2 linked regions of the Homo sapiens genome follow. The protein of the gene in region 1 binds, or shares a complex with, the protein of each later gene. Each region holds a gene or a part of one and is shown in the gene's direction. Other genes may lie near its edges. The genes, in order: RAB6A and GCC2.

Region 1 (10,693 bases):
ACTTTTTGGAGTAACTATTTCATACTAACTCTGTACTCCTCAAAAGCTAACTTTACCACTTTTACCACTCTTCTTTGACCCTTACTTTGAAGACCTTGCTTCTTAGAGAAATGGAAAGTATAAGGCAGGAATGCCCTTATTTATTTTTCTTACCACATCATCTAAGTACATGTAACAGTATTTGTACTAATCCTCTTTCATTCCAGTATACTGCAGTAAATGCCCTCCTCCTATCAAAAGCCAATCCCTAACTGTGCTAAAGCTTATCTTCTCTGGCATTTGTCATTCTCAACATCTTCATTATTCTTTATTTCCTGGAGTTTTTGTTATATATCAGGCACTATTCTGCATCCTGGGTATATAGCATACTGCAGTGAACAAATCAACCAACCTTACTCTCATGGAACTTCTAGTGGGGAGAAGTTGGACATTTAACAGTTAATCAAATAATTTATTAATCTAGTCAAAAGTGCTGTAAAGAAATACATTTAGGAGGCCAGGCGCAGTGGCTCACGCCTGTAATCCCAGCACTTCGGGAGGCCAAGGCGGGCGGATCACAAGGTCTGGAGATCGACACCATGTTGGCTAACACGGTGAAACCCCGTCTCTACTAAAAATACAAAAAATTAGCCGGGCCTGGTGTCGGGCGCCTGTAGTCCCAGCTATTCAGGAGGCTGAGGCAGGAGAATGGCGTGAACCCCGGGAGGCGGAGGTTGCGGTGAGCTGAGATTGAGCCACTGCACTCCAGCCTGGGTGACAGAGCGAGACTCCGTCTCAAAAAAAAAAAAAAAAAAACGAAATGCATTTAGGAAAACATGATCTTAGCATGATAATGATTGTGGCCTTTATAGTACTACCTAGCTGCATAATTTGTAAGTCACAATTTGCTATTTTCAGAGAAGGAAGAGAGTACTGTTCTTGACTTATATACTATAAAATTTACTTTTAGTCAGTTTGTGATGTTGCCTATGTATATCAACAAATGTACTTTGATGTTCGAACTAATATATTCTCAAGTGAATGTTTTTGTCATGGAAGAGAAAATGAAGTGTTCAGTGGGATATCTTTTTCTTTGCTTTTGGAGTCACCTTTTGAATTGCTGTTGTTTTACATGCTTTACATAGCTGTTCTTGAGTGTGAACTTTCTGCAGCCTATATGCAGTAATCCCATATTAAGGCAAAGTGAATGAGAAATGCATAAGCGTTTATATGGAATTTGAGAAACAGTTCAATTTTTTCTTTAAAAACCTATTTGTTAGAAATATTTGCTGTACAGGAATTGACATACATAAAGTTTGTGGTGTTTTATTTATGTAACTAAAAAAAATCTTATATATTGAAATGCAGGGTACTGGTTTACAGTATATAGATATGTGGGTAGGAGTGGTGAGAGTCATTTTCTTAGCCTTTATTGAGTATCTTATCTAAAAATATTGACATCGTACCATAATATCTTTTATTGTCCTTTTCCTGGTTTTTTTCTCTCATACTACTCTCTAATATACTATTTTACTTAATTAGCTTATTGTTTGTCTTAGCAGACTGTAACCTTTGCAAGGGCATAGATTCTTGTCTGCTTTTTATTCTTTTACCACAGGATTCTCAGCTGCTAATGATGGTGCCTAGTAGGCAATCAATAAATATTTCTTTCGGCCAGGCGCAGTGGCTCATGGCTGTAATCCCAGCACTTTGGGAGGCCGAGGTGGGCAGATCACTTGAGGTCAGGAGTTCGAGACCAGCCTGGCCAACATATAGTGAAACCCCGTCTCTACTAAAAAATACAAAAATTAACTGAGTGTGGTGGTGCACACCTGTAGTCTCAGCTGCTTGGGAAGCTGAGGCAGGACAATTGCTTGAACCTAGGAGGCGGAGGTTGCAGTGAGCCAAGATCACCCCACTGCACTCCAGCCTGGGTGACAGAGCAAGACTCTGTCTCTCAAAATAAATAAATAAAATAAAATAAAATAAGTAAAATAAATCTTTCTTTTTTTCCCCCCCAGTATTTGGAAGGAATAGAGTTCAATAAATATTCCTGATGAATGTGGACAGGTGTACATGATTTTTAAATGTGTTCCGTCCAATTTGGGTAGAGACTAACTGCATGTTTGTTCATCACTCTAGTACCTTACACAGTACTTGCAAGTACGTGCTTAATAAATATTTGATGAGCAAGCTGGGCACATTGGCTCATGCCTATAATCCTGGCACTTTGGGAGGCCGAGGTCGGGGGGAATCACTTGAGGCCAGGAGTTCGAGACCAGCCTGTCCAACATGACAAAACCCCATCTCTACTAAAAATACAAAAAGTAGCTGGGCTTGGTGGTGAATGCCTGTAATCCCAGCTACTTGAGAGGCTGAGGCACTAAAATTGCTTGAACCCAGGAGGCAGAAATTGCGGTGAGCCGAGATCACGCCACTGCACTCCAGCCTGGGCGACTGAGCGAGACTCTGTCTCTAAATAAATAAATAAATAAATAATCGATGAACGAATAAATGAGAACTAAATGGGGCAATGTGTATAAATCGGCACTTAGTAGATAATCAATTTATGTAATTTACTGTAGCTTTCATTCTTGAATATATGTAAAAACATGTAAAGACTTATCAACATTGCATTGATTTTTCATATAAAGATATTATCTTTAGGCAGGGTGTAGTGGCTCATGCCTATAGTCCCAGCGTGTTGGAAGGCCAAGTGGGGAAGATCTCTTGAACCTAGGGGTTCCAGACTAGCCTGGACAACATGGCAAAACCCTGTCTCTATAAAAAAATACAGAAATTAGTGGGGCATGGTGGCATGCACCTGTAGTCCCAGCTACTCGAGAGGATTGCTTGAGCCAGGAGGTTGAGGCTGCACTGAGACAAAATCACACCCCTATATACCAGCTTGGGCAAGAGTGTGAGACTGTCTCAAAAAAAAAAAAAAAAAAAAAAAATATATATATATATATATATATATATATATATATATATACACACACACATATATATTTGAATTTTATTTACGGAAGCATCAGAAAAGAATAAAATACTTAGGAACAAATTTAACAAACAGCATAAGACTATACAAAACACTGCTGGGAGAAATTAAAGGAGACACATGTATTAGTTTGTTCTCATGCTGCTAATAAAGAGATAACCCAAGACTGGGTAATTTATAAAGGAAAGAGGTTTAATAGACTCAAGTTCCACATGGCTGGGGAGGCCTCAGGAAACTTACAATCATGGCAGAAGGGGAAGCAAACATGTCCTTCTTCACATGGCAGCAACAAGGAGAAGCACAGAGCAAAGAGAGGGGAAATCCTTTTATAAAACCATCAGATCTCGTGAGAACTCAACTATGACACACACAAAATTCTATTTTTCTGCTAACAGAAATAAAATCCCCAACTGATGGACCACTTTTCTGATCTAGTTTTTGATTGTTTTTTAGGAACTTAAAATTCTTAGTGACTCATATTTTAAAATGCACAGACTCAGTTTCTGTTTTAAGGAATATGGCACAAAGATATTTAGGGAAAAAGTATGTATGTACACGCACATATATACATAGTATATGTGCACACAAACATTAATGAGGTGGTAAAACTTCTAAAATAGAGTCCATATCAACATCCTCTTTCTGGAGTCTGTCTTTCTTCCATTCTTTTTATTTATCTCCCCTAATTAATACTGGACTGTTTTTTAACTTGTATACTTTTTTTCCTTTCTTTTTTGTAGTCTGCCTTCTTTCTATTCTCTTATTATTTCACCATTTTCTCTTGATAGGGAAAACAGCAGCCAGGCAATAGAACTTTACATTTGTTTTCACCACAGAAGGAAGCTATCATTGTGTGGTACAGAGGAAAACTTGTTTTCCTTACCTAATGACTTTTATTTTATATTGGAAAAATCATGTCTCTTATGGAAAGTTATGATGTTTGTGAGTCTCTGGCTGTCTATGGCATTAGGACAGTTGACAATATATCAACAGTATTTTATAAAACTGCTCTTGGGGCAGATACTTACCATTCTGAGTGGAGAACAATCAGATACTCAAACTAAAGTTCAAATACAAATATTTAAACCAAAGTTGCCATTGTCTTGTTATTTGTAAAATGAGAAAAGTAGGGATGAGAATAAGCTACCTGGCAGGAATGTATAAAGATTAGAGATGATCATGTAAAAGGCTTAAAACAATCTCTGATATGAAGCAAGTGCTGAATACATGAAAATCATTATCACTGGAAATTTTGTTTGTCCTTAATTGTCCTTAATTGACTATGTTGTATTGATTTGTTTATTCATTATTTCTTCCACAATCATGAATCCCATTTGAATCCTAAACTGCTGGCCACCATTAAACTTATTATTTGTTAACTTCTTTGTTTTGTTTTACAGGCAACAATTGGCATTGACTTTTTATCAAAAACTATGTACTTGGAGGATCGAACAGTGAGTAATATTTTCAGTGTGCAATTTTCTGCAACATTCCAGGTTAGAAAACTGCAATCAAAGTTATCAATGATTGTCACCATAAGAAGTACTTAGCAAAGTTACCAAAGATAGTTTACAGTTGTTGAGAAAAACTCTTATTACCGAGTGAGTAGTACTTGGCAGTCATCTTGATTTGGAAAAATGAAAACAAAGAGCTTTACAGAGAATTAAAGGAGAATTTTTATGAAGAAATTAAACCTGCTAAAGACCTTCTAAATGCCACCCTTGAGGCATTCAAAAAGATTTCAATTTGTGAACTTCAAGATTTTTTTTGTCAGGATAGGATGCGTATCAAAGTGACTGACAAAAAAGAAGTTATGTGGGCAGGGTGCGGTGGCTCACACCTGTAATCCCAGCACTTTGGGAGGCTGAGGCAGGTGGATCATCTGAGGTCAGGAGTTTGAGACCAGCTTGGCCAACATGATGAAACCCCATCTCTATTAAAAATACAAAAAATTAGCCAGGCGTGGTGGCGGGCGCCTATAATCCCAGCTACTTGGGAGGCTGAGGCAGGAGAATCGCTTGAATCCAGGATGCAGAGGTTGCAGTGAGCTGAGATTGCGCCATTGCACTCTAGCCTGGGCAACAAGAGCGAAACTCCGTTGCAAAAAAAAAAAAAAAAAGTAATGTGTATTTATTTGTTGGATTTTTGTCTTTCATCCTTTGGAATGTTTTCTTTAAATACAGTGTAAAATCTGTATTCTAGCCCACTACCCCTTGAAGAGATACTTGTCACCTAAACAGTGAATATCTTAAATGCAGTACTTTGAGACCTGCACCCAAAAACATTATTTAATTTCCAGTGTTATTTCTTAGGTGTTTTTTTTTTCCTGAATATTCTCTTTTATGTTTTGATATATAGCATGTCATTTCTTAAAATTTGAAAGCGGCCAGGTGTGGTGGCTCACGCCTGTAATCCCAGCACTTTGGGAGGCCAGGATGGACAGATCACCTGAGGTCAGGAGTTGAAGACCAGCCTGGCCAACATGGCGAAACCCCATCTTTTCTAAAAATACAAAAATTAGCTGGGCGTGGTGGCGGGCGCCTGTAATCCCAGCTACTCGGGAGGCTGAGGCAGGAGAATCGTTTGAACCCGGGAGGCAGAGGTTGCAGTGAGCCGAGATCACACCACTGCACTTCAGCCTGAGCGACAAGAATGAGAGTCTGTCTAAAAAAAAAAAAAAAAATTTGAAAGCTTGGAAACGACTTTATCATGATGCAAGAACTTGATACTTGTTTTCAGGCTTTTCTTCCTGTAATATAGATATGGATAGTACGTAAAGACATTTTTATGTAGGGCTGCAAAAAGATCTTCCTCCTTTTTGTTACATTATACACACACACGCGTGCATGCGTGCGCGCACACACTCGCATGTTCTGGGGAAAATGTATGGGAGAAATACAAGCACGGTAGTTAAAAAACAGGTTTGAAAGTATTCTAGACCCAATAGGAAAGAGACACATTTTAGCTTGAGAGAAGCTTTCAAAGAAGCATTAATTCCTTTACTCTGATAGCTTAGGCTGCTCATTGACATTTACCTTAGGTTTTTTTGTTTTGTTTTGTTTTTTTCTCTATTTAACCATCAACAGTCTACTTTTTGCCACTTGAAAGGCATAGGGATTCAAACAGGTTTTAGGTAGGGAAAAAGGGAAGCCATATTTCTGATTCTGTGAAATTTTTCCCAGTGGCATTTTCCAGTCATTTATGTTTGGAGTATGCAAATTTTTAATATTTCTCCCTTTTGAAAAAGGAGTTTTGTGTTATTTTCATTCCTCACTCCCTGCAACCTCTTGCATGAGTCTTCTTTCTACTTCCTTCCCACCCTCTCCCTTTTACAAAAAACATTGTTTCTTTTTTCTTTTTAGTATTAGTTTGGTTTTTTTTTTTTTATTTATTTTTTCCCATCTCACAGATCAGGCTTCAGCTGTGGGATACTGCGGGTCAGGAACGTTTCCGTAGCCTCATTCCCAGTTACATCCGTGATTCTGCTGCAGCTGTAGTAGTTTACGATATCACAAGTAGGTATATTGCAACGGGTTGACCTTTCTTATTTTTCTTGCTTGTTTGACTGATTTTGTTGTTAGGTACGATTGCAATTATGGGACACAGCAGGTCAAGAGCGGTTCAGGAGCTTGATTCCTAGCTACATTCGTGACTCCACTGTGGCAGTTGTTGTTTATGATATCACAAGTGAGTGGAGGGAATTATGCATTTCTAATCTTCTTTCAACCTTTAGCTTAGCTGCATGCATGTTCTTGTCTTGTGCTTGTTTTCCTTACTGGCATGTAAAAATAAGTTTTATCATAGTAAATTACATACCAGCCAGGTCAGAAATATTTGCTTTGGTGTTTATACCAATATGCTTTATATGTAACTGTGCCAGGTTTTTTGCCCCAGAAATTTTCTTTTGGGTCCAACTATGAATCCTCTTCAAGGGTTTCTTAGTATCCTGTTATTCGTAAACCATACCATAATTATAGTTGGAGGAATGTTTCCTTGATCTCAGATTTCTCTAAAATAAAATGATCTGCATTTAAGTCTCTTGCCAGGTTTTCCAAATCCTCCAAGCTTTCTATTGAGGCTATTACAAGCTTCTGCTAGCCAGCTTTTCTCTGCTTTCCCCTTCCAGCCATTCTCTCTCTGTAGAGGAAGACAGAGAAAACATAATGTACAGTTTTCTATTAATCTTTTTTATTTGAATCATATTTTGGTTCTGTGACTGATTTATTTACTTTGTTGCTAACAAATTACACTTTCATTTCTCTCCAAGAAAAAAATTTTAAATAGGAGGTGAAACAACTAGTAGTCTTTTTCTTTTTTCTAAAGATTGAATAATGCCTGTGGCCTTTTAAGTGATTGTAAATTTTCCATGAAGCATTGGTGACTGACAAGAAAATGCTTTCTGATTGAAATTGCCTTTGTAAATTGGTTTATGACATATATTAGGCAATATTAAACATTATTACATGTAGTGGTTCATAACTTATAGGAAAACCAGGGTCTTGAACTCCTGGGTTCAAGTGATCCTCCTGCCTCAGCCTTCTAAAGTGCTAGGTTTAGGCCGGGCACAGTGGCTCACGCCGGAAATCCCCATATTTTGGGTGGCCAAGGCAGGCGGATCACCTGAGGTCAGGAGTTTGAGACCAGCCTGACCAACGTGATGAAACTCCATCTCTACTAAAAATGCAAAATTAGCCAGGTGTGGTGGTGCATGCCTGTAATCCCAGCTACTTGAGAGACTGAGGCAGGAAAACCTCTTGAACCTGGGAGGCGGAGGTTGCAGTGAGCCAAGACCGTGCCATTGCACTCCAGCCTGGGCAACAAGAACAAAACTCTGTCTCAACTACAACAACAACAACAAAAACTAAAGTGCTAGGGTTACAGGCATGAACCATTGTGCCCAGCCCAGTATCTGGGGCTTTCTTTTTAAATTTTTAAAAAATGTGTACCACACTACACAGATGTAGTATCTTGGGCTAAAAAAAATCTTAAATAGACAAAGGAACTATTCATTTGGACTAGTAATACTGTTACTATGCATTCTTGCATATCTCCTCAATTAGGAATTGTTATCTAATAACGAATAATTGTGCTGGCAAAATTAGAAGATTGCATTCAAGGACTTTTTTTGAGATAGGTGCTATATGCAGTCTTTCTTCCTTTGCACCTTTACTTTGGGTTGCTGTTTGTTTAAAAAAAAGAGGTATGTTCATATTGTGCATTGACACGTTTTGTAGCTTTAAAATGTTTGTGCTTACTTTAACCACAGCAAGTGAAACCTGGTGTATTTTTTTTTAAATCCACAAATGTGATTCAAATATTAGTACGTTGTTTTCTTTAGCTGCTGTAAGAAGTGTTGAAGTACTCTACTTAGAATCCAACACTAGAAAAGATAAATTTTGTTACAAGTGTTTCTGATGCATTAAACAAATAAACTTTAGGTTAAAGTGATCACAAACTGAGGAAGCAGTGCAAACAGTGGTGTTGAAAGCTATTGAAAGGCTTTACAGATTTTCTGGATGTGTTGGGACTTACTGGCTGACATACTTTGGAAAATGCTTTCTTTGTCATGTTTGGTATGTGTAAGTGATCAAAAAAGCATTGTGGCAATGTGACACCATATTATCTGCCATAGCTGTCCTTATATTTCAAAAAGTTGTTTTTTTTTCAATTAAATACTACATTGTACTCATTTGATCATGTTCAAAAAATTTTTAAACTACTCTAAAAGGAACCTTGAAGATTTTATTCTTGTAATTTGTTTAAATTGCTGACAGTTGTAATCAGATAAAATGGAGTTATGTTGCAGGCACATTAAAAGTGGGGTACTAATGTGCCAGCCCCCTTCCAACTTCCAGGGCTTTTTTGGAGGGAGGTGCCCACCACCTGGGGAGGCATTTTTCAGCAACACTAATCTCTCTGTCTACCCTCCTATACTAGATGTTAACTCATTCCAGCAAACTACAAAGTGGATTGATGATGTCAGAACAGAAAGAGGAAGTGATGTTATCATCATGCTAGTAGGAAATAAAACAGATCTTGCTGACAAGAGGTATGGAGTTATTTTATATGTGTGTAATGTTTGATTTCTGTGATGCAGCCTTTTATTTTTGTTCACTGAGAAATTGTTTTGAAAGGAGACATGCTTAATCCTTAAGTTTACGTCCTCCCCTGCTTTTCTTTAGCATGGGAACCTCAAATATAAATGTAAATATTAAACAGCCAGTCCTTAAGGGAAATGAATTTTATTTTGTTTAAGCCCATGTGTAAATAACTCTTGTGCAAGTTTGTTTAGACATGAAGCCAGTAAATATTTTGCTTTTTTTAGATCTCATAAGTATGAAAAGTGTTTTGTTAAAGAGCAAGCCATTTTGGAAAAACCTTATCTTTAAAAATTGTTCATAATGATTAAATGCACACTCTTTTCTTAGTAGTCTTCTTATAAAACATTCATTATAATTCAGTGGTGTGGATTTTTGTTTTTTGGTTGTTGGTTTTTAATTGTGTGGCTGAGCCAGACTGTGTAGTTGCACTGAATAGCTTGATTGTGATACCTTAGTCAAATGAGCAAAGCGATATTCAAGTCACAGGATGCAAAATATATTAACATTCACTGTAGGACCCATGGCTTGAATATTTGCTTTCAGCATTCTTAAGCGATTTACTGCATATTCTTTCTGCTTTAAATAGTTTTGACCATACTACTTAATAGTAAGAGCTTTTACTATTTATTTGTTTATTCATGAGATGGATATTGAAATTCGGGTAATGAACTTGTGATATTAATTCAAGTGTTGCAAAGAAAGCCAGTGTTAAAAGACTTGTGGAGATATGAAGCCCATTTCTGCACATGGCACCTCAGTTAGAATTGGTAGTACAGGCCGGGTGCGGTGGCTCACAACTGTAATCCCAGCACTTTGGGAGGCCAAGGACGGTGGAACACGAGGTCAGGAGTTCAAGACCAGCCTGGCCAAGATGGTGAAATCCCGTCTCTACTAAAAATACAAAATTAGCTGGGCGCTGTGGCATGCACCTGTAATCCCAGCTACTCGGGAGGCTGAGGCAGGAGAACTGCTTGAACCAGGGGAGCGGAGGTTGCAGTGAGCTGAAATTGTGCCATTGCACTCCAGCCTGGGCAACAGAGTGAGACTCCGTCTCAAAAAAAAAAGAATTGGTAGTACAGTTGCAAAAAAGTCTTTCTTAATTTAAAAGTAAATTCAAAGTGATTGCATCTTTTCTTTATAAAAATATGTTTTGGACATGAACTGCTATGAAGGAAATTTTCACTATTTTATTTATCCTCACTCTAGAGACTTTGTAGGTACTTTTCTTTTTTTGGGATGGAGTCTCATTCCGTCGCCCAGGCTGGAATGCAGTGGTGTGATCTCAGCTCATTACAACCTCCACCACCTGGGTTCAAGCGATTCTTCTGCCTCAGCCTCCTGAGTAGCTGGGATTACAGGCGCCTGCCACCATGTCCTGCAAATTTTTGTATTTTTAGTAGAGACGGGGTTTCACCATGTTGGCCAGGCTGATCTTGAACTCCTGACCTCGTGATCCACCCGCCTCAGCCTCCCAAAGTGCCAGGCGTGAGCCACCGCGCCCTGCCAGTACCTTTATTTTATTTATTTATTTATTTTTGAGTTGGAGTCTCGCATTGTCACCTGGGTTGGAGTGCCATGGCGCGATCTCGGCTCACTGCAACCTCTGCCTCCC
Region 2 (10,915 bases), on another chromosome or scaffold:
GATTTATTTAGGTCATGTGAATTTGAAAAATACTTTGGACTTATTTATTTATGACTACTCTTATTTATAAGACAATTTGATAAACACAACATATAACTTAATAAATGTACATTCAGGCCAGGCACAGTGGCTCATGCCTGTAATCCCAACACTTTGGGAGGCCAAGACAGGCAGATCACGTGAGGTCAGGAGTTTGAGGCCAGCCTGGCCAATATGGTGAAACCCTATCTCTACTAAAAATACAAAAATTAGTTTGCGTGGTGGCGGGCACCTGTAATTCCAGCTACTCAGGAGGCTGAGGAAGGGGAATCACTTGAACCCAGGAGGTGGAGGTTGCAGTGAACCGAGATTGTGCCACTGCACTCCAGTCTGGGTAACAGAGAGACTCCATCTCAAATAAATGAATAAACATTCACATAAACACATCTAGACATGGATACACACATAAAGATCCAGTGGCTTTTATTTGGAAACTCTAGCCATGAGATAGCAATACAAACTCAACGGTCTACAAACATGTTCACATGGCTGAACTCTGTTAGCCCCAGTAGGTAATCCAATGAGGCCTGTAAACCAAAATTTTGGGTAAAGCAGTCTCCATGGAAATTGGATTTTTAAAGGCCATACATCCCAGACTCCAAAGAACACTAGGGCCAAACAGTACTACAGAAGAACATCACCTGGAATCTACCAATTAGGCCCAACCCTGTTTAGAATAGCAAAATCAAAGCCGGAATACATGGTACACTTTCCCATTCAACTCTAGATTCCCAAGAATATTGGGGCCAAACAGTATTACAAAAGAATGTCAGTTTACTGAATTCTAGTTTCCCATGATGATACCAAACACACAAACAATAACCAAAACACAATTCAATGCAACAGGAACAAACAAGTCCCAAAAGTGTCCAAACTGAAACAGGCAGGGTGTTTCCTCTCTCCATGAGATGGGCGTGGTCAACCTGCAAACAAAAATTCCTTCATAATTTCCCAAATTGGCCAGGCGCAGTGGATCATGCCTGTAATCCCAGCACTTTGGGAGGCCAAGGCAGGCGGATCACGAGGTCAGGAGATCGAGACCATCCTGGCTAACATGGTGAAACCCTGTCTCTACCAAAAATACAAAAAATTAGCCGGGTGTTGTGGCTGGCGCCTGTAGCCCCAGCTACTCAGGAGGCTGAGGCAGGAGAATGGCATGAACTCGGGAGAGGCGGAGCTTGCAGTGAGCCGAGATCATGCCACTGAACTCCAGCCTAGGCAACACAGCAAGACTCTGTCTTAAAAAAAAAAAAAATTCTCAAATTAAGAGGAACTGATCCCATTGTCTGGTATCCACAAAAGACACTCACTTGCCCAGACACAAAACACACAATTACAAAGAAGCCCCAAAAATGTCCAAACTGAAACAGTCAGAATGCTTCTCCCTCTCAGTCAGTTGGCCTTGTTCAACCTACAAAATGGAAATTCAGCTTAAAATTTCCCAAATTAGGAGGAGCAGATCCTGCTTTCTGGGCCCACAAAGGACACTCACCTATCTAGATGTAGATGTGAAATTTCAAAGGCAGTTCGTCCCAGGAAGTCAGGAACGCAGTTGGGGCTGGCAGTATCAGGGCCAGAGAGAGATGGAAACTCACCTCTAGTCAAAATTGGATGGGCAGCCATTTAGGTGGTCTTCTGAGACTCCTGGCCCTAGCAGCCAAGCCAAGAGCAACACATTCCCAATCAGGGAACCACAATCTGTTACAGAAACACCAGGGGAAAGTCTATGTCCTGCCGCTCACCACACGGAAAGCCAATCACTGAGATGATGAGTATTGCCAAGGAAGAAGATTTTAATTGGGTGCTGCAGCTGAGGAGATGGGAGCTCATTCTCAAATCCATTTCTCTGACTGACTAAAATTAGGAGTGTATACAACAGGGAAGAAATGTAACAATGTGTAAGGAAATAGGAACTAGGGAGGGGCAAGGAAGCAATCATAATGAATGAGGGGTCCACCATCTCATTGTCAGGATGTGGTGATCTGTAACTTTCAGTTTTTTGATACTTTTTTGAGAGGCCTAAAGGTAGTTTCCTGAGGAAGGAACTCAGATAAAACAAATGTAAGTTTCAAGCTTTAAGACCAGAAGGTCCATTTCTATGTTTATCAACAATACTATCTATGGGACTATTGGGTCGGTTCCATTATCACCACTGCTCTTCGGCTTCATTATCTCTGTTTCCTCCCTTGTTTCCTTAGAGACATGATTTTCCTGAATCTCACAGGCTGAAAATCAGTTATATGTGCCTTTTTAAAATAACTGCTATGGGCTGAATTGTGCCCCATCCACCAAATTCATATTTTAAAGTCCTAAATCGCAGTCCCACAAAATGTGACCTTTTGGAAATAGGGTCTTTACAAAGGTAATCAACTTAAAATGAGGTCATTAACGTATACCCTGATCCAATGTAACTGCAGTCCTTACAAAATGTGAAATTTGGCCACAAAAACATGCATAGAAGGAAAATGATGATAAGAGAAACAAAGGGAAGACAGCCATCTGTGAGCCAAGGAGTGAGGCCAGAAACAGATCCTTTCCTCACAGCTCTGAGGAACCAGCACTGCCAACACCTCTGAACTTCCAGCCTCCAGGACTGTGAGACAATACATTTCTGTTGTGTAAGCCAACTAGTCTGTGATACTGTTACAGAAGCCCTGGCAAACAAATAAAATAATTATATAATCTAATAAACTAAAGGCACAGAAGTTTACCCTGACTTAAAGCAGAAACCAAATTCACCAGTGATAGAAGCAGGAGATAGCCAAATGCCTAAGCAGATAGGGAAGGGTCCCCAGAGAATCTCTGACCAGCCACACAAGGGTTTACACCAGATGTTTTGTGCAGATAAGGGAACCTGCACAGGGGTCTTGCCTGGGCATGCCCACAGTGGACTGGAGGCCCACATGCACTGGGGGAATAGGGTGGAGCCACCAGGAATTTGCGCCTTATGCAGGGGAGGAGCCTGGCCTCTTCAACTCATGTGTGGTGGCCCTGGTATTCAATTTGGGAGGTGACAACCTGCTCTCAGGACCCCTCTCTTTGCTGAGAGCTTTCTTTTCACTTAATAAATTCCACTCTCCTCATCCTTCAATGTGGCTGCATGCCTAATTCTTCCTGGTCATGAGAAAAGAACCCAGATTAGCTGAGCTAAGGAGCAAAAAAATCCTGCATCACCAGTATGAACATCTAAGACTCATGAACATTTGTTTTCAATATTGTTATAAAAATTTACTTTATAAATTAAAAAGTAATGCTGGCTAGCTACAGCATGTTGATGTGGCTTTACAGTATAATACCAAATAGATAATATTTTTGTGTCATGGAGGAGAAAGCATTGCACTGAGGGTCAAGAATCCTCTGTTCTGGCCGGGCGTGGTGGCTCACACCTGTAATCCCAGCATTTTGGGAGGCCGAGGGAGGCGGATCACCTAAGGTCGGGAGTTCGAGACCAGCCTGACCAACATGGTGAAACCCCGTCTCTACTAAAAATACAAAAATTAGCTGGGCATGGTGATGCATGCCTGTAATCCCAGCTACTCAGGAGGGTGAGGCAGGAGAATCACTAGAACTTGGGAGGCGGAGGTTGTGGTGACCCGAGATTGTGCCATTGCACTCCAGCCTGGGCAACAAGAGCGAAACTCCGTCTCAAAAAAAAAAAAACAATCCTCAGTTCTGGTACTGGCTCTACCCCTAATCATACTATGAACCTTAGAAAGTAACTTACATTCTGGCTCACTATCTTATCCTGTATAATAAGAGGCAATAGGTTAGGTCAGAACTACATTCACTTGTAAGTATATTAAAAGTAAATTAAAACATATGACTTATCTTTTAGCTACATCAATACAATATAAATGGGCCGGGTGTGGTGGCTCATGCCTATAATCCTAGCACTTTGGGAGGCTGAGGCAGGTGGATCACTTGAGGTCAGGAGTTCAAGACCAGCCTGGCCAAGATGGTGAAACCTTGTCTCTACTAAAAATACAAAAATTATCCAGATGTGGTGGCACTTGCCTGTAGTCCCCGCTACTCGGGAGGCTGAGGCGGGAGAATCACTTGAACCCAAGAGGCAGAGGTTGCAGTGAGCCAAGATCATGCCACTGCACTCCAGCCTGGATGACAAAGCAAGACCTGTCTGAAAAAAAAAAAAAAAAAAAAAGGAGAAGAAAGAAAAAAAAATACAATGTAAATGTAGTTTTTCCATGCTTACCTTAAGAGTTATAATCAAAGCACTGAAGAGCCAAGGATTGATTTTTCTGAAATAAAACTTGCTAGCGAACTAACAAAAAAAGATCAGGTGTCTCTCCGGACCATCCCTAAGCAACAGGTGCCTTTTAATGTGGCTCTTCAGGAGATAATGGCATGTTGGCACCATTCCAAACTGGTAAAGAAGCTATTTTTACTTAGGCAAGACCCTGCAACTTGCTCAAATTATATTATGTTTCAGTAGTGCTGGTTAACATACAGCAGTCTCCATCTACTATACAATGTGACCAGCACAGCACATATTATTGACATTGTTATTAACATTGTTCCTATTTTCTATTTCCATAAATGATTCAAGGTGATTTTTATTTTCTTTTCGGAATTTTCCTATATTTTCCAGGTGTTCTACAATGAACCTGTGTTACTTTTACAATTGGAAAGAAACATATTCGTTAAACAGGTCATAGTTCTGCTCATTAAGGTAATATACATCTTTAAAATGTGAACTTATCTGCAGTCCAGAGAATGTGAAATATAAAGCAGATCTTTCCTATAGGTTTATGAATATCAGAAGATCTCAGAGTACTCACAATCAATTCATAAATATTCATTCTTTAAAGTATGAAAGATGATAAATATATTTAGAAGATTTCAGCACTTACTATAACTAGTGAAGGAAGAAATAAATGATTTCTTCCTTAAGAGGAACAACAACAGAAGGTATCCGATGGTCAAGAACATTATACCTGCCTCCATCATCTCAGAAAATAAAATTCCTGTCCAATGACAACCAGGAAGGCAGATGGGGGTGAGCTCGAGCTGTGTGAGGAGGCCGCTGATGACCTGGAGCTTAGGGGTGTGCTGACCCTCATCTCCCTGGGGATTCCCAGGAGACGCTGCCCTACCTGTAGCTGCAACTCATGGACCCTGTTACCCAGCCAAGTGCAATGGAGGGCTGGCGAGGGAAGAAAGATCAAAGGAAGAAAAGAAAGGTTCTTTTTTATTTCAAGTATGAGAAAAAGAGAGTTCTACTGTGAGAACATCAACTCTTCTGTAGCTATTGATGTAGCCAAACTCCTGGAATGTAACTATATCTAACAGTGTTTCTCTGAGAAACTTTTACAGGATTGGAATGTGTGTAGTATCTAGTTAACCTGCTATTTTATTGCAAGTGATTTTTTCAAGTTATTAATTGAAATAGGAGTCTACCGTAAGTTGCTCTTAACTTGGGGAACTACTTTGAATGGCATTAATCTGGACCATTAATAACAATGTATACTTGGGGATTGTGTGTGTGTGTGTGTATACATGTGTGTGCATATATGTGTGTACACACACGTGCACACACACGTGCGCGCACACGTGCACACACACACGTGCACACACACACGTGTACACACACACGTGTACACACACACGTGTGTTACTGTACGTGGAGACTGTACATCTTAGGTCACACACCACCCCTGAACCAATCCTACAAACACCATAGGTGATACACACTGTCAAAGACAAAGAGTAGATGTCCACAATAGCTGTTCTTTCTCGTTTATAACACTTCTTTTACCTAGTAATAATCAGCTACCATTTACTCGATACATACTGTGTGCTGCCTCTTCAACCTTTTGACCATTTAAACTACAGGAAACTAGGTTATCTTCAGGTTACCTTAGTTATGGGAGTGTATGGAAAACATTAATGGGAAGGTGAAAGCGCAGCAAACCACTTCAGCAGTTAACAGAAAGGCTCTCAGAGCACTGGACCGCCAATCAGGACACAGCAGCAGCTCTGGGATTCGACCACAGATTCTCTGGCGTGCCCTTCGGGAAAGGGTGGCCTCGGGCCCCCTACTCTACAGAGTCTCCTCCCACGGCTGCCCAGTTCCCTGGCCGACTATCTTGCCTCCACCACATCACCATCAGTACCGGGCGGCTGCAGGGCAGAGCTGTCCAGGGACCTCCTCACAGCCTCCAGAGTCAAGAAATGCCTCCTCAGGGAAGCCCTCTACCGCATCCCTGACCTGTGAGTCACGGAGCTCCCGGGCACCATGCTGGCCACAAATGCCTAAGGAGCCCCCCGGAACCAGCTGTGGGTCCCGCAGGCACTCGCAGGCTAGCGGACACCTTTGGAGGACTGAGAGACCTGTCCTGCAATCCAATGTTCCTCACTCTCACAAGATTTTACAGACGTGGAAACCGAGGCCCGAGGCCCCAAGGGGTAATCGGCCCGCCTTCCCATGCCAATAACCGGCAGTGGCGGGACCCACACCTACTCCGTGACCTGCAGGCCCAGGGGTCGAGCCCCAGGTAGAACGTCTAGACGGACTCCGCCCTTAGCGCCGTACGGGGAACCTTCTCCCGGACGCAGACACGGAAGCGGAAGTGCTGCCGAGCTGTAGCTATGGAGACGTGGGGGGCGGGCCGCCCGGAGAGCGCGACCTTTGACCTGCAGTAGAGCCTACGTCAGAGGCTGGCGCAAACAGAAGTGCAGCGGTGGCGGCGGCTGGTTGCGGGCCGGCGGCGGGCTGGCGGAGATGGAGGTAACTCAGGTCGGGCCCACTGCCTCCCATCAAGCCTTCCGCGCCGCGATTTGGGATGTGGGAGTGGGCCCGATGGGAGGGCGCGGTAGTCTCCCTCTTGGTGTCCCGAAGCCCGCGCTGCTGTCGCCTCCCCATCTTTCGTAAACTCTATCCCTGGGGGTTACCTGCCCCGTAGAGCCCGTTTGTGTACGAATTGCCACAGCGACCGCCTCCGTCCGCCCTCATTCTCTGTCTCACGAGGCTTTCCACCACTTGATTCCATAGAAGGTTTTTCCCTGTAAGGGTTCTACGCGTTCCGTGTGGAATTAGGAAAAGAGTTCTTCTGACACCTGGGTTTGATTTTGTTTTGCAGGATCTTGTTCAAGATGGGGTGGCTTCACCAGCTACCCCTGGGACCGGGAAATCTAAGGTGAAGAGAATACTTGAATAGCGGGCTTCCTGAAGAGTGGAAGGGTGATGAATTGGAAAACTTTGGCATGGGGAAGGGGGGGGCGCTGATTTTTTTTTTTTTAATAGCCTTGCTCCAAGGGATCTCAATTTTAGTGTGCGCAATCGCCCATTTCCTGTTTCTCCCCCGCCCACCCCGATATAGAAAGACTTTTTGTTTGCTTCCTGCTCCTGGTTAGCACTGCTGGGAGATCCTGCTATTTTTCGAACATAAAGCAGTCTAAGAAGGTTTATATAGTGGTGTAGTGGAAGGAGCAGTGACATAGGGTAGGAATCAAGGGATTCTGATCTGTGGGCTCCAGTTTCTACATTGCCAAAGAGTTTAATTAGTCCAGTTTTATGGCCCTGTACAATGTTTAACATTCAATCATTCTAAATGATAGTGGTTTATTGCTAAGGTTTATTGTGTGCATGCTAAATTTCTGGCGCTTGCCTAACCACTCAGTTCCTTCGTTTAAGCTTCATGATAACCATGAGATAGGTACTGTTGTTACCCTCCTTTTACAGATGAGAAACCTGAGACCACAGGCTTAAGCAATTTTCTCAAGTGGTAAAGCTCAATTTTTTAATTAAAGCCTGAATGTTACCCGGTTCATCTTGCTGCTGTAATTATGCGTAAATTTTCTTGTGACCAAAGACTTGCAGCCTTGAATAGAATGAAATAATTTTACAGCTCCAAGGAATTTTAAGTAGCATTAGCTCCAACCTACTGATTTTACAATTAAATCAAAAGCTAGCAATGTCAACCTGTAACATTAGCTATAAGAGGATATGGCCTGGTTTTTACGTTTCATAGTAGTTGCATAACTAATTTTTAGTAGTTGCATAGCAATTACAGAATTGACGTTGCATTTGCTGATTTTAAAAAATGTGGCCGGGCGCGGTGGGTCACGCCTGTAATCCCAACACTTTGGGAGGCCGAGGCGGGCAGATCACCTGCGGTCAGGAGTTTGAGACCAGCCTGGCCAACATGGTGAAACCCCGTCTCTACTAAAAATACAAAAATTAGCCGGACGTGGTAGCGGGCGCCTATGATCCCAGCTATTTGGGAGGCTGAGACAGGAGAATTGCTTGAACTTGGGAGGCAGAGGTTACAAGTGAGCCAAGATCGTGTCATGCACTCCGGCCTGGGCAATAGAGCGAGACTCTGTCTCAAAAAAAAAATGTGGAACAAAGTATGCGGTTGGCATAAAGATTTATTCTGTAGAATGTTTTTGTTTTCTAGCAGACATTGTTTCTTTTTTGTGGTATACTAGAAACATGAGTTATAACAAGTTGGTAACATGACCACATCTTTCAGCTGGAAACATTGCCCAAAGAAGACCTCATCAAGTTTGCCAAGAAACAGATGATGCTAATACAGAAAGCTAAATCAAGGTGTACAGGTATTGGGTTGAAAATACTCATCTTGATCACAGTCTCTTTAATCGTGGTTTAAAATGGTAGTTTTTAAAATAATGCATTGGCTTGTTTTTGTTTGTTTTCCAGTGATTCCAAGTACACCTTAGTGTAGTAGAATCTGTTATTTAACATTCTAAAAATTTACCTCTGATTTCTAAATTATTCCCACATCTCTAAACCACAGTGACTTTTGAGTTGTTAAAGTCAGGGAGGAGGATTTTTAAAGTTTGTGTAAGTTAAGTGTGTTTTTCCTTCATGTAGACTTTAGATTCTTCTGAGTTCTGAGTAAAGTGTTTTTTCAAGAGAAGTCAGTTGAAATGTTAGAGACAGAAGATAAGCCCAAAGAGATGGAAAGCTTCCTCAATTAAAATAATAAAAGACTTCCATTTACAGATATTGAAGTATGTTTACCTGCTGAAGTTGATTGATTCCCTATTCAGTTTTCTTTTTATTCCAGAAGGAAAAAGATCTTAGCACCTTTTTTTTTTAGTATATGTACATGAGCTCTTGAATTTCCAGTGACTTATAAATATTAACTGCTTAGCCTAAAAGCTAAGACTTATTTTCTATTAGAAAAGATAAAAGTATGTCTTGGGAGTTTGGATCACCTTGCAATGAAGAGAATAATTTATTTGGAAAGAAGTTCTAGGCCTGAGATCTAGGCATTTGCTAATTAAACACTTAGATTAACGTTTCTTTTCTCTCTCTCTCTCTTTTTTTTTTTTTTTTTTCAAGACGGAGTCTCGCTCTTCTTGGCCAGGCTGGAGTGCAGTGGCGCAATCTCGGCTTACTGCAACCTCCCCTTCCCGGGTTCAAGCGATTCTCCTGCCTCAGCCTCCCGAGTAACTGGGACTGCAGGCACCCACCACCATGCCTGGCTAATTTTTGTATTTTTAGTAGAGACGAGGTTTCACCATGTTGGCCAGGCTGTTCTCGATAACGTTTATTCTTAATATGTGATTGTTGCTTTAAGGTTATACAGTAAGATGTACTTACAGGTGAAATAATATGATGTCTGGGGTATGCTTGAAAATTATCAGATGGATAAGAAAAGCAGTGAAGGAGGAAGTGAGTACAGGTTGGGAGGAAACAAAATTGGCCATGTAATGCTGAAGTATAGTGATGAGTGCAGAGATTAATCATACTATTCTGCTTAAATATATTCTAATTTGCAGATTTATGGGGGGTTTTGTGAGAATGTACTTATCAGTTTCCCAGTAATTATGTTCTTTATTTCTGAACCGGAGTCCTTTATTTTTTAATTGTTTAGAATTGGAGAAAGAAATTGAAGAACTCAGATCAAAACCTGTTACTGAAGGAACTGGTGATATTATTAAGGTAATTATTACGTTGGGAAATGTCTAAAGAGAAATAAAATTTCCCTGAGGATTGTCAGTCTGCTAGAGGCTATCTGGCTTTCTGTTTCTGTTCTACTTCCTCTCTGCCTTGGTTGTTTTTACCTATCTGATTCACTGTAAAAAGAGGGGGTTAATGACCTCTGGGTCTCTTTCTGTTCTGAAATTATTATTCTACTCTCTTCCCACGTATTTTCTTTTTTCTTTCTTTTTTTTTTTTTTTTTTTTTGAGATGGAGTCTCACTCTGTCACCAGGCTGAAGTGCAGTGGTGTGATCTTGGCTCACTGTAACCTCTGCCTCCCGAGTTCAAGCAGTTCTCCTGCCTCAGCCTTCCAAATAGCTGGGACTACAGGCGCCCGCCACCACACCCAGTTAATTTTTGTATTTTAAGTAGAGACGGGATTTCACCATGTTGGCCAAGATGGTCTTGCTCTCTTGACCTCACGATCCGCCCGCCTCAGCCTCCCAAAGTGCTGGGATTACAGGCGTGAGCCACCACGCCCAGCCCATATTTTCTAATTATGGTTGTTACTTCATTCTCTGCTCTTCCCCAGCCCCCTGAAAACCTGGCCATGCTCAGGACTTAAGTGATTTTAGGTGTACAGTATATAATCTATAGATAGATCCATATCCCTGGACATGTCTACTGACCCAGATCTCACAGTTGTGTTTCCCTCTCACACATTTCACTTATCTCATCAAACTCAACCAAATTGCTTCCCTTGGTTAGACCAGTGGCACCACAGTTTTTTATACCTTTTGACTTTAGAGACACTTTAACTTCTCTGTTTCCTTTATTCTCTATATGTGTCAGTCACCAGAGACCTATTATAGCTTTAAGATATTGTTCCAGTTTATCTTTTTTCTCTCTATTTCTATGGCTTTATGTTAAACACATCAAATACTTAACCTATTTCAATAAAAACC

What was found.
Region 2: the proteins of RAB6A (region 1) and GCC2 are in contact, whole or in part, in a crystal structure (PDB 3BBP), measured with the Homo sapiens proteins. Residues at the interface, in NP_942599.1 of Homo sapiens: Lys15, Ile46 (codon at 4,387), Gly47 (codon at 4,390), Ile48 (codon at 4,393), Trp67 (codon at 6,577), Arg74 (codon at 6,598), Phe75 (codon at 6,601), Ser77 (codon at 6,607), Leu78 (codon at 6,610), Ser81 (codon at 6,619), Tyr82 (codon at 6,622), Asp85 (codon at 6,631); in NP_852118.2 of Homo sapiens: Thr1585, Ile1588, Leu1589, Glu1591, Gln1592, Leu1595, Leu1596, Glu1599, Arg1602.

What each region holds. Positions count from the first base shown.
Region 1 is NC_000011.10:73,714,587-73,725,279, reverse strand, and holds part of RAB6A (ras-related protein Rab-6A), read left to right. Parts: intron 1-4,380; coding exon 4,381-4,434; intron 4,435-6,389; coding exon of another isoform or gene 6,390-6,495; intron 6,496-6,561; coding exon 6,562-6,667; intron 6,668-8,917; coding exon 8,918-9,029; intron 9,030-10,693. UniProt on the Homo sapiens protein: The small GTPases Rab are key regulators of intracellular membrane trafficking, from the formation of transport vesicles to their fusion with membranes.
Region 2 is NC_000002.12:108,442,497-108,453,411, forward strand, and holds the start of GCC2 (GRIP and coiled-coil domain-containing protein 2), read left to right. Parts: upstream 1-6,709; 5' UTR 6,710-6,778; coding exon 6,779-6,784; coding exon of another isoform or gene 6,785-6,793; intron 6,794-7,136; coding exon 7,137-7,193; intron 7,194-8,531; coding exon 8,532-8,616; intron 8,617-9,902; coding exon 9,903-9,970; intron 9,971-10,915. UniProt on the Homo sapiens protein: Golgin which probably tethers transport vesicles to the trans-Golgi network (TGN) and regulates vesicular transport between the endosomes and the Golgi.